3 linked regions of the Homo sapiens genome follow. The protein of the gene in region 1 purifies or fractionates together with the protein of each later gene. This does not show direct contact. Each region holds a gene or a part of one and is shown in the gene's direction. Other genes may lie near its edges.

Region 1 (1,895 bases):
GAGAATCTGAATAAGGCCATGTGTGTGGTAGGTAAGATTCTGGAATATTTAGGACATTGAGTCTCCAGGACTTAGTGACTGATTGGCTATAGAGAAGATAACTCCCACATGTGTGCTTGGGCTGGCTGACTGGGTTGTATTACTTTCACCAAAATGGTAATACAAGGACAAATAGAAGATTCAGAGGAGACAAGACAATCTTGTTTTACTTTGTTGAGTTTGCCGTGATCACAAGGGGATATCTATTGGCCAATGTCCAGACAGTGGTCTCTTGAGTACCCCAGCCTAGCCCTTCAGCCTCAGCTTGTGCCCTCCGCCCATTAGATCTGTGCAGCCTTGCCAAGCTGACTTTCTTTCACTCAATCCAGCGGTCTCTGGTTCAACATCAGCAAGAGATTTACAATGTTTCTGCTATTTGCCAGGTACCTGGGCTTCCCCTCTTCACCGCAGCTCCTAGCCCTTTGCCTAGTTTAAGTCTACTAAGTTCCCAGGCTTTGGCTTTAATGTCATTTCCTCAGGGAAGCCTCCCCTGCCCACTCCAGCCCCTCAACCAGATTGAATTACACCCCTAGCATATGAGCTCCCCATGCATCTTCATAGCAGTTGTCAAAATTATAATTAGTTGTATAGATATTGGTTTATTGTCTGTTGTCTTTGTTAGCCATCTACAAGAGGAAGAGACCTTTTCTATCTTGTTCACTGCTAGTAGGATCTAGTATAGTATCAGGCACACAGTAGGTGCTCACTAAATATTTATGTAGTAGATGGACAGGTGAGTAGTTCTAGCACTTAGTACAGAAGTGTGGTCTGGGGATATAGATTTTGCAGTAGCATACAGGTGTTAGTTTAAACATTTGGAAGGTAAACCTTTTAGAAATACCAGACATGGGCTGGGCGCGGTGGCTCACACCTGTAATCCCAGCACTTTAGGAGGCCAAGTCGGGCGGATCACGAGGTCAGGAGATCGAAACCATCCTGGCTAATATGGTGAAACCCTGTCTGTACTAAAAATACAAAAAATTAGCTGTGTGTGGTGGCGGGCGCCTGTAGTCCCAGCTACTCGGGAGGCTGAGGCAGGAGAATGGCGTGAACCCGGGAGGTGGAGCTTGCAGTGAGTGGAGATCATGCCACTGCACTCCAGCCTGGGTGACAGAGCGAGACTGTGTCTCAAAAAAAGAAATACCAGACATGGAGTCTTTAAAAATATGATGAGAATGCCTTTCATTAAACCAGTATAACAAATGCATTGGATTTTAAGTGTCTGTGATGTACTTAGATAAATAGTGACAACCTATTTTTTGATCAACCTACATAAAAAATAATTTTAAAGCAGTGTGGTCTCAATCTTAGTAGAAGAGTAGAAAGCAAGATAGTTTCTACTTGGAATAAACAAGTGCACAGTGGAAGTGATTAACTCTTACTCTCAATGTTATCGCTGTTTTGACTTAACACTCAGCTCCAATTGGGGCTGATTGTTATCATGTGAGGTCAGGTAGAAAGGGTGTATCACCTTTACCACGATCACTAATTCATTAAAGGTTAACAGTGAAAATGTTAAAAGGGTTTTTATTTACATGGTGAGACCAGTGGAATAAGTATTTATTGATTTTTGTTTCTCTGTACTTTTCAAATTTATTATGAACCCTTTTTAAAGGGAAAAAATGGACAAACAAAAGGTTTCTGGAGGGTAGGAGTACATTGACATTATATACTATAACTTTAAATATATAAAGTACTAAATAAAGATATTTTTCCCCCTTATAGGGCATTATGCTGGTCTATGACATCACAAATGAAAAATCCTTTGACAATATTAAAAATTGGATCAGAAACATTGAAGAGGTATGTGTGGAAAGAGAATGGTGACATTGGAGAAGAGTCCTGCTGGGTGCTTG
Region 2 (3,660 bases), on another chromosome or scaffold:
TTGTAAGCATTCTGTCTTTTACTCCAAGTAAGAAGGATGGCTCTGAGGGGCACAGCCTTATTTTGTCTTCTTTTTAAAAATGGAGGTAAAGTTGACATAACATAAAATCATTTTAATCAATTTTAAAGTATAAAGTTCTGTGATTGTTAGTACTTTCAGAATGTTGTGAAATTAGATCACCACTATCTAATTTCAGAACATTTTCACCATCCCAAATAGAAACCCGATAGCCATTAAGTAGCCACCTCCATTTACCCCAGCCCCTAATATGCTTTCTGTCTTGATGGATTTGCCTAATCTAGACATTTCATATAAATGCAGTCATGCAATATGTGGCCTTTTGTGTTTGGCTTATTTCAATTAGCATAATGATTTCAAAGTTCATCCATGTTGCAGCATGTATCAGAATTTCATTGTCTTTTATTGATGAATAATCCATTATATGAATATACCACATTTCATTTGTCTAATCATGCATTGATGGACATTTAGGATGTTTTCATCTTTTGGCTATTAGGAATAATGCTGCTATGAACATTCATGTAACATTTTTGTGTGGACATATATTGTTTAGTTCTGTTGGGTAGGTACCCAGGAATGGAATTGCTGGGTCATATGATAGTTCTATCCCTGATTTACATTTTAAAAGCTCATTTTGGCTGTTGAGGGAAAGTCAAAGCCAAGGGAAGAAGCAGGATTAGTTAGGAGGCTACTGCAACCATCCAAGAGCTACATGATGGTGGTTTGGACCAGAGTAATGGCAGTGGAGGCAGTGAGAACGTATCAGAGTCTAGGTATACATTGAAGAGGATTTGCTGACAGATTTGATTTGTATTGTGAGAAAAAGAGGAGTAACCGATGATTCTTAGCGTTTTTGACTTGAGAAATGAAAGGGAATTGCCATTTGATGAGACAGAGCGAAGAGCAGTTTTGGGGGAAGATTAGGGCTTTGGTTTTGGGCTTGCTGTGTTTGAGACATCCACGTGGAGACATTGAGGAGGCCATTGGAAAAACAAGTCTGGAGTTTGAGTAAGAGATAAATTTGAGGCCGGGCATGATGGCTCACGCCTGTAATCCCAACACTTTGGGAGGCTGAGGCGGATGGATCACCTGAGGTCAGGAGCTCAAGACCAGCCTGGCCAACATGGTGAAAACCTGTCTCTACTAAAAATAAAAAAATTAGCCAGCCATGGTGGCACAAACCTGTAATCCCAGCTACTCAAGAGGCTGAGGCAGGAGATCGCTTGAACCCAGGAGGTGGAGGTTGTAGTGAGCCGAGATTGTGCCACTGCACTCCAGCCTGGGTGACAGAGACTCCATCTCAAAAAACATAAAAAATAAAAATAAATATATTTGAGTTATTAGTTTATTGAGGATATTTAAAGCCATGAGACTAGATGAGATCATTTAGGGATAATTCTAGATAGAGAGGAGGAGCAGCCCAAGGAAGAAGTTTGGACATAATCTAAATATTAGAGGTCTACGGGAGGAGGAAGGACTAGCAAAGGAGACTGAGAAGCAGCAGCCAGTGAGGTTGGAGGAGGAAACCAGGAGAGTGTGGTGTCCGGGGAGCCAAGGGAAGTTATTTGAGATATTTGAGGAAGAATCGATGTTTTTTCCCCCTTTTCCTGCTGCTCTCACTAATTCTTTGAGGTAAGGGGCCGAGGAACCGTATCCTTCCCTTGAAAGATGAGAACTGGTATTTTGAATGCCCAGAGTCATCCTTCATTAAGGCGATTAAGCTAAAAAAAAGAATTCTGGTCACCTGAATACTGTCTTCTAGACATACTGCTTATTTATGGATATATCTCAGTCCCACTGAGGGCATTTATTCAATAATTCAGTCAATAAAAATACTTGAGTGCATACTCTATGCTAGTCTCTCTTCAAGGCACTGAGAACACATCAGTAAATAAGATACGTGGTCACTGATCTTATGGAACTTTGTCGAATGGAGGAGAAAGACATTAAATAATTTGTTTAAATTATTGAACCAAATAAATAATTTGTTTAAAATACATAAATAGTTACATATGTGGTGACTGTTACTAGGAAATCAGGATGCTATGGGAGCACAGAGGAAGGTTACTAATCGAGACTTAGGGTGGGGGCATGGCCAGAGAGATCTGGAGGAATTGACATATAAGGAGAGACCTGAAGCAGGAGTAGATTGAGGCAGGTGAAGAAAAGTGGCCATTGTGAAAAGAATATCTTAGGCAGATAAAAGAGGGAAGATGGAGAGCTTCAGGATATTCAGAGAAACAAAATAACTTTGTCTTTCTAAAATATAAAGCTTGAAGGAGGAGTAGGGGGTGAAAAATGAGACTGGAGAGGGTGAGCAGGGGCCAAATCATGAGGATTTCTTGCCATGCTAAGGAGTTTCAGCTAAATCCCAACAGCAATGGGGAACCACTGAAGAGTTTTAAAAGTATACTGAGGGCCGGGTGTGGTGGCTTACGCCTGTAATCCCAGCACTTTGGGAGGCCGAGGCAGGCGGATCACGAGGTCAGGAGATCGAGACCATCCTGGCTAACACATTGAAACCCCATCTCTACTAAAAATACAAAGAAATTAGCCGGGCATGGTGGCACGCACCTGTAGTCCCAGCTACTCGGGAGGCTGAGGCAGGAGAATGGCGTGAACCCAGGAGGCGGAGCTTGCAGTGAGCCAAGATCGCGCCACTGCACTCCAACCTGGGAGACAGAGTGAGACTCCGTCTCAAAAAAAAAAAGTATACTCAGCTGGGCACCATGGTACATGCCTGTACTCAGCTGGTACACCATGGTACAGTTACTCAGAAGGCTGAGGCAGCAGGGTTGCTTGAGCCTAGGAGTTAGAGACTGTTGTGCACTATGATGGCACCTGTGAATAGCCACAGTACTCCAGCCTGGGCAACATTGCGAGACCTTATTTCTTAATTAATTAATTTATTATATGTTTAAAGTATACTCATATTTATTTTAGAAAGATCACTCAGGCTACGATTGTGAATGGATTGGAAAGAGGCCTGACTAGAGGCAGGAGAACCTGCTTCCTTTCAATATTGGCTCTTGGTTTTTATTCTAGTGTGCTATTTGAAGTGCCAAAGCTGAAAAGTGGAAAGAGTGCATTGGAAGCTGAGAGTGAGAGTCTGGATAGCTTCACAGCTGACTCGGATAGCACCTCCAGGTGGGGTTCCCCCCATTTCCCTCATCTCCTCTCAACCCAAGTTGTGATTTTGTTCTGCAGCATCAGTGTTCCTGACTTCTGTCCTCAGGAAGTTGAACGAAGTATTTTCTCTGTCCTCAACAGAAGTCTTTTCAGTAGCACGTCTACTGATTTGGCTCTGAGCACAGCTTCCTGGAACACATTGACATCTCTAGTCAATTCCCCCAGTATCTTGGAGTATTCTTCTTAGCCCAGTAGCAACTGATGCTGCTGTCCCTTAAGAATGAGGGTGTGAGTGTTTGTGTTTGTGCAAAGTTGCCTATCTGATCTTCTGCATTCCTTCCAGGTAAATCACATGCGAAGTGTACCTTCTGAATTTGGTTATTACGATGACCCAAGCCATTGGCTCTCCTTCCATAGAGCTTTGATCCCTGGGTAGAAGGGGAAGGGTAGGAGGTGACTTAGTTATAATTTCTGAATCTACCTCCAGGAGAGACTCTCTGGATAAATCTG
Region 3 (3,660 bases), on another chromosome or scaffold:
ATGAGAAGACTGAGGCATGAGAATCGCTTGAACCTGGGCGGTGGAGGTTGCAGTGAGCCTAGATCGCGCCACTGAACTCCAGCCTGGGCCACAGAGTGAGACTCTGTCAAAAAAAAAAAAAAGACGGGAGTTAAGGAGTTAGGTGTTCAAGCTGGACTCGTACAGACTTGTCTGTTTGTAGGAGAGTTTTATGCAAACACCTACACTTCAAATTAGAGTAGATCTCACCCTCCAAGTAGTAGCTTAGTGTATGATCATTTGGGCTCCCTTGCTAGGTGGGGAGGCAGAGACCGCTTCATCCTTCTGGTGCTAGTAACAACAATGGCTCATTTGGGGACCCTTCCCTGAGTGTTTTTTTTGTTTTTGTTTTTGTTTGTTTTATTTTGTTTTGTTTGCTATGTTTTGACCGCATTGTTTGCAGACGACAGACAACCAAGTGGACCCTCAGTCCCATAGATGTCCCACAATCTGTATGACCCTGAGGCAAAGTCCACAGCCGTTCTCACTCCTCCCTGTCGTCCTCTCCCACAGGAATCCGAGGGTGTTTCCTGCCACTATTGGTCGCTGTTTGACGGGCACGCGGGGTCCGGGGCCGCGGTGGTGGCGTCACGCCTGCTGCAGCACCACATCACGGAGCAGCTGCAGGACATCGTGGACATCCTGAAGAACTCCGCCGTCCTGCCCCCTACCTGCCTGGGGGAGGAGCCTGAGAACACGCCCGCCAACAGCCGGACTCTGACCCGGGCAGCCTCCCTGCGCGGAGGGGTGGGGGCCCCGGGCTCCCCCAGCACGCCCCCCACACGCTTCTTTACCGAGAAGAAGATTCCCCATGAGTGCCTGGTCATCGGAGCGCTTGAAAGTGCATTCAAGGAAATGGTAGGTATTCCTGGGAGTCTGGGGCAGCAGGGCCAGGCTGGCGCCTGCGCCAGGTCTGTCCGTCCTTCCTGGAGGGCTCCCAGAAAGCGCACGGTTTTGCTGCCTGGCTCCACCTGGACGGCCCCCTGTGATAATGGGGCTTCCATTCCCAATAGAAATTGGCAGCAGACAGAGTTCCTGGCATCAAGTGCTGGCAAAAATGTAAAAGAAGGCTGAGTGCGGTGGCTCACGCTTGAAATCCCAGCACTTTGGGAGGCCGAGGCAGGAGGTCAGGAGTTCAAGACCAGCCTGGTCAACATAGTGAAACCCCGTCTCTACAAAAATACAAAAATTAGCCGGGCATGATGGCCGTTGCCTGTAATCCCAGCTACTCGGGAGGCTGAGGTGGGAGAATTGTTTGATCCTGGGAGACAGAGATTGCAGTGAGCCAAGATTGCGCCACTGTGCTCCAGCCTGAGCAACAGACCGAGACTGCGTCTCAAAAAAAAAAAAGTAAAAGAAGATGAAAGAGGGGGACAGTGCATGAGGTCAGAGGCTTATTAAATACAGGCCTTATTGCTTTTATTTCCTATATTCATATTGATGCCAGCTGGTACGATTGCACTTAGATGTGAGCATGATCACCATCTGTTTTACAGATGTGTATAAAGTCCGGTGTTGGGGGAAACAGGGTTTAGGAAAGTGCTCAAAAGTCCCCATCCTATACAGATGTGATCTAAGAACGGCTGTTTTACCACAACTGGGAATGTGGTTCACACTGCAGACAAAGTGCTGGAGGAGAACAGAGCCAGGGGCCAATATCCAAGAAGTCTTAGTCTTACCCAGGCATGTGGATTTGTCTGTTCGTTTCCATCTGAATGGGTCTGATCGGGAGTTCATCATCCTTCGCTGTTGGCCTCACTCCTGAGCATGTCCTCGGGAGAGTGCCACAGCTCTCGCTGTCCCTTGCTGCCCCTCTGCCTGGCAGGAGTGCACATAGAAGCCGCCTCTGCTTTGTTCTATGCCAGCTCTTTCCCTCTGTGAGCTTACTTTATCCTAAGCCAATTATTTTGGTTTTAAAGATTTTATTTCTTGCTCGGCAGCCTGCATACAGATAAAGAATAAGAGATATTTAAGGATATTTATAAGGGCTTGAGTTAGGCAAGTGGGCAGTCATGGCCTTAAAACCTGGAGATTACAGGCCGGGCACGGTGGTTCATGCCTGTAATCCCAGCACTTTGGGAGGTCGAGGTGGGTGGATCGCAAGGTCAGGAGTTCGAGACCAGCCTGGTGAATAAGGTGCAACCCCGTCTCTACCAAAAATACAAAAAAATTAGTCGGGCGTGGTGGCACATGCCTGTAATCCCAGCTACTTGGGAGGCTGAGGCAGGAGAATTGCTTGAATACAGGAGGCAGAGGTTGCAGTGAGCTGAGATCATGCCACTGCACTCCAGCCTGGGCAACAACAGCGTGACTCCATCTCAAAAAAACAAATAAACAAAAAAAAAAAACCTGGAGATTACAAAGTGATGAGAAGCTGTTAAATGAAGTCAAAACAGCTAGAAGCGTCTTGCCAGAACCGGATAGGCACATGGTGCATGTTCCAGGATCTCACGGCATCAGGTAGTGTGCTAAGAAGGAAAGTAAATAATGACTATACATATCGTCATCTGATTTGTTTGTAAGGCAAAAATAGTTCATATATTCACCCCTCAAATTTGCATCCTCTTTTTATTTAAACGTGTCCCTTCTTTGGTCTCAGCTTTTTCTCTCCTTGTTACAGAGATAACATTTACCCTTTGACTAGCAGGTGGTTTAAAATGCACCTTGCTGGGCGTGGTAGTGGTGCATGCCTGTCATTCCAGCTACTCAGGAGGCTGAGGCCGGAGGATTGTTTGAGCCCAGGAGTTCTGAGCTGTCATGTGGGTTCAGTGTCAATGTGGTGACCTCCTTGGAGCAGAGCACCACCGGGATGCCTGAGGAGGGGTGACCTAGCCCAGATCAGGTTATATCTCCAGTGCTTTTTTGTCACTGTATTCCAGCTTGTGCAACACAGCAAAACCCCATCTCTTAAAAAATAAAATTAAGAATAAAAATGTAAAAATAAAATGCACTTCTATCTCAAGACTGTCTGATAGCCTGCAACCCTGCAATCCCAATGAAAATACCAGGAGGCTGGAAAAGATTATTTAGGAAAAAGGGAATTAAGGTAGGAAAATTGACTCCCACTCAGTCGTGGTGTAAAATCTCACTCTCTGCCTCTGTAGAGGCTCTGATGTCAATAAATGTTTCTAGACACTAATACTCAGAATGCCAAGTATTGAATTTATTTTTTTAATTATTTAGGCAAAAATTTGACAATGGGCTCTCCTTGTAATGTAATGTAATGTAATTCAGTTTGCATGGTAGAAGTGAAAAATAAAGGAAACGTTGAGATTTTCATTTCCTTCAGTTGTGACTAGTGCCACAGGACATCTTTTACCTGGAGCTGCTGCATTCTCAATTTTGTCCACTAGAGGCCAATGTCACATTGACTCAGGACTCCACAGGGGTCTCAGGCTGTTCCTGCCCATTAATGGCTCAGGGTTGCTCTTAACAACTGTGCTGGCAAAGAAAGGTTCATTCAGAAAAATACTTAAGAGGCTCATTTTTAAAATATTTCTACTTTTAATGAACCAATTCATTACCTCAAATTTTTCTTGGAAACTTAGTCACCAGCAAAAACAACAATTGTTTGCTTCATTTTCATGTGTAATTCATTCAATCAGTAATATTTGTTGAGAACCAACTAGAAGCCAGGCCTGA

What was found.
Region 2: the proteins of RAB8B (region 1) and SYTL4 purify together in Homo sapiens (affinity purification with mass spectrometry; 2 studies listed by BioGRID and IntAct, with this or other methods). This does not show direct contact.
Region 3: the proteins of RAB8B (region 1) and PPM1H purify together in Homo sapiens (co-immunoprecipitation; one study listed by IntAct). This does not show direct contact.

The regions. Positions count from the first base shown.
Region 1 is NC_000015.10:63,253,743-63,255,637, forward strand, and holds part of RAB8B (ras-related protein Rab-8B), read left to right. Parts: exon of another isoform or gene 1-1,764; coding exon 1,765-1,842; intron 1,843-1,895. UniProt on the Homo sapiens protein: The small GTPases Rab are key regulators of intracellular membrane trafficking, from the formation of transport vesicles to their fusion with membranes.
Region 2 is NC_000023.11:100,690,616-100,694,275, reverse strand, and holds part of SYTL4 (synaptotagmin-like protein 4), read left to right. Parts: intron 1-3,066; coding exon 3,067-3,168; intron 3,169-3,637; coding exon 3,638-3,660. UniProt on the Homo sapiens protein: Modulates exocytosis of dense-core granules and secretion of hormones in the pancreas and the pituitary. Interacts with vesicles containing negatively charged phospholipids in a Ca(2+)-independent manner.
Region 3 is NC_000012.12:62,799,032-62,802,691, reverse strand, and holds part of PPM1H (protein phosphatase 1H), read left to right. Parts: intron 1-531; coding exon 532-876; intron 877-3,660. UniProt on the Homo sapiens protein: Dephosphorylates CDKN1B at 'Thr-187', thus removing a signal for proteasomal degradation.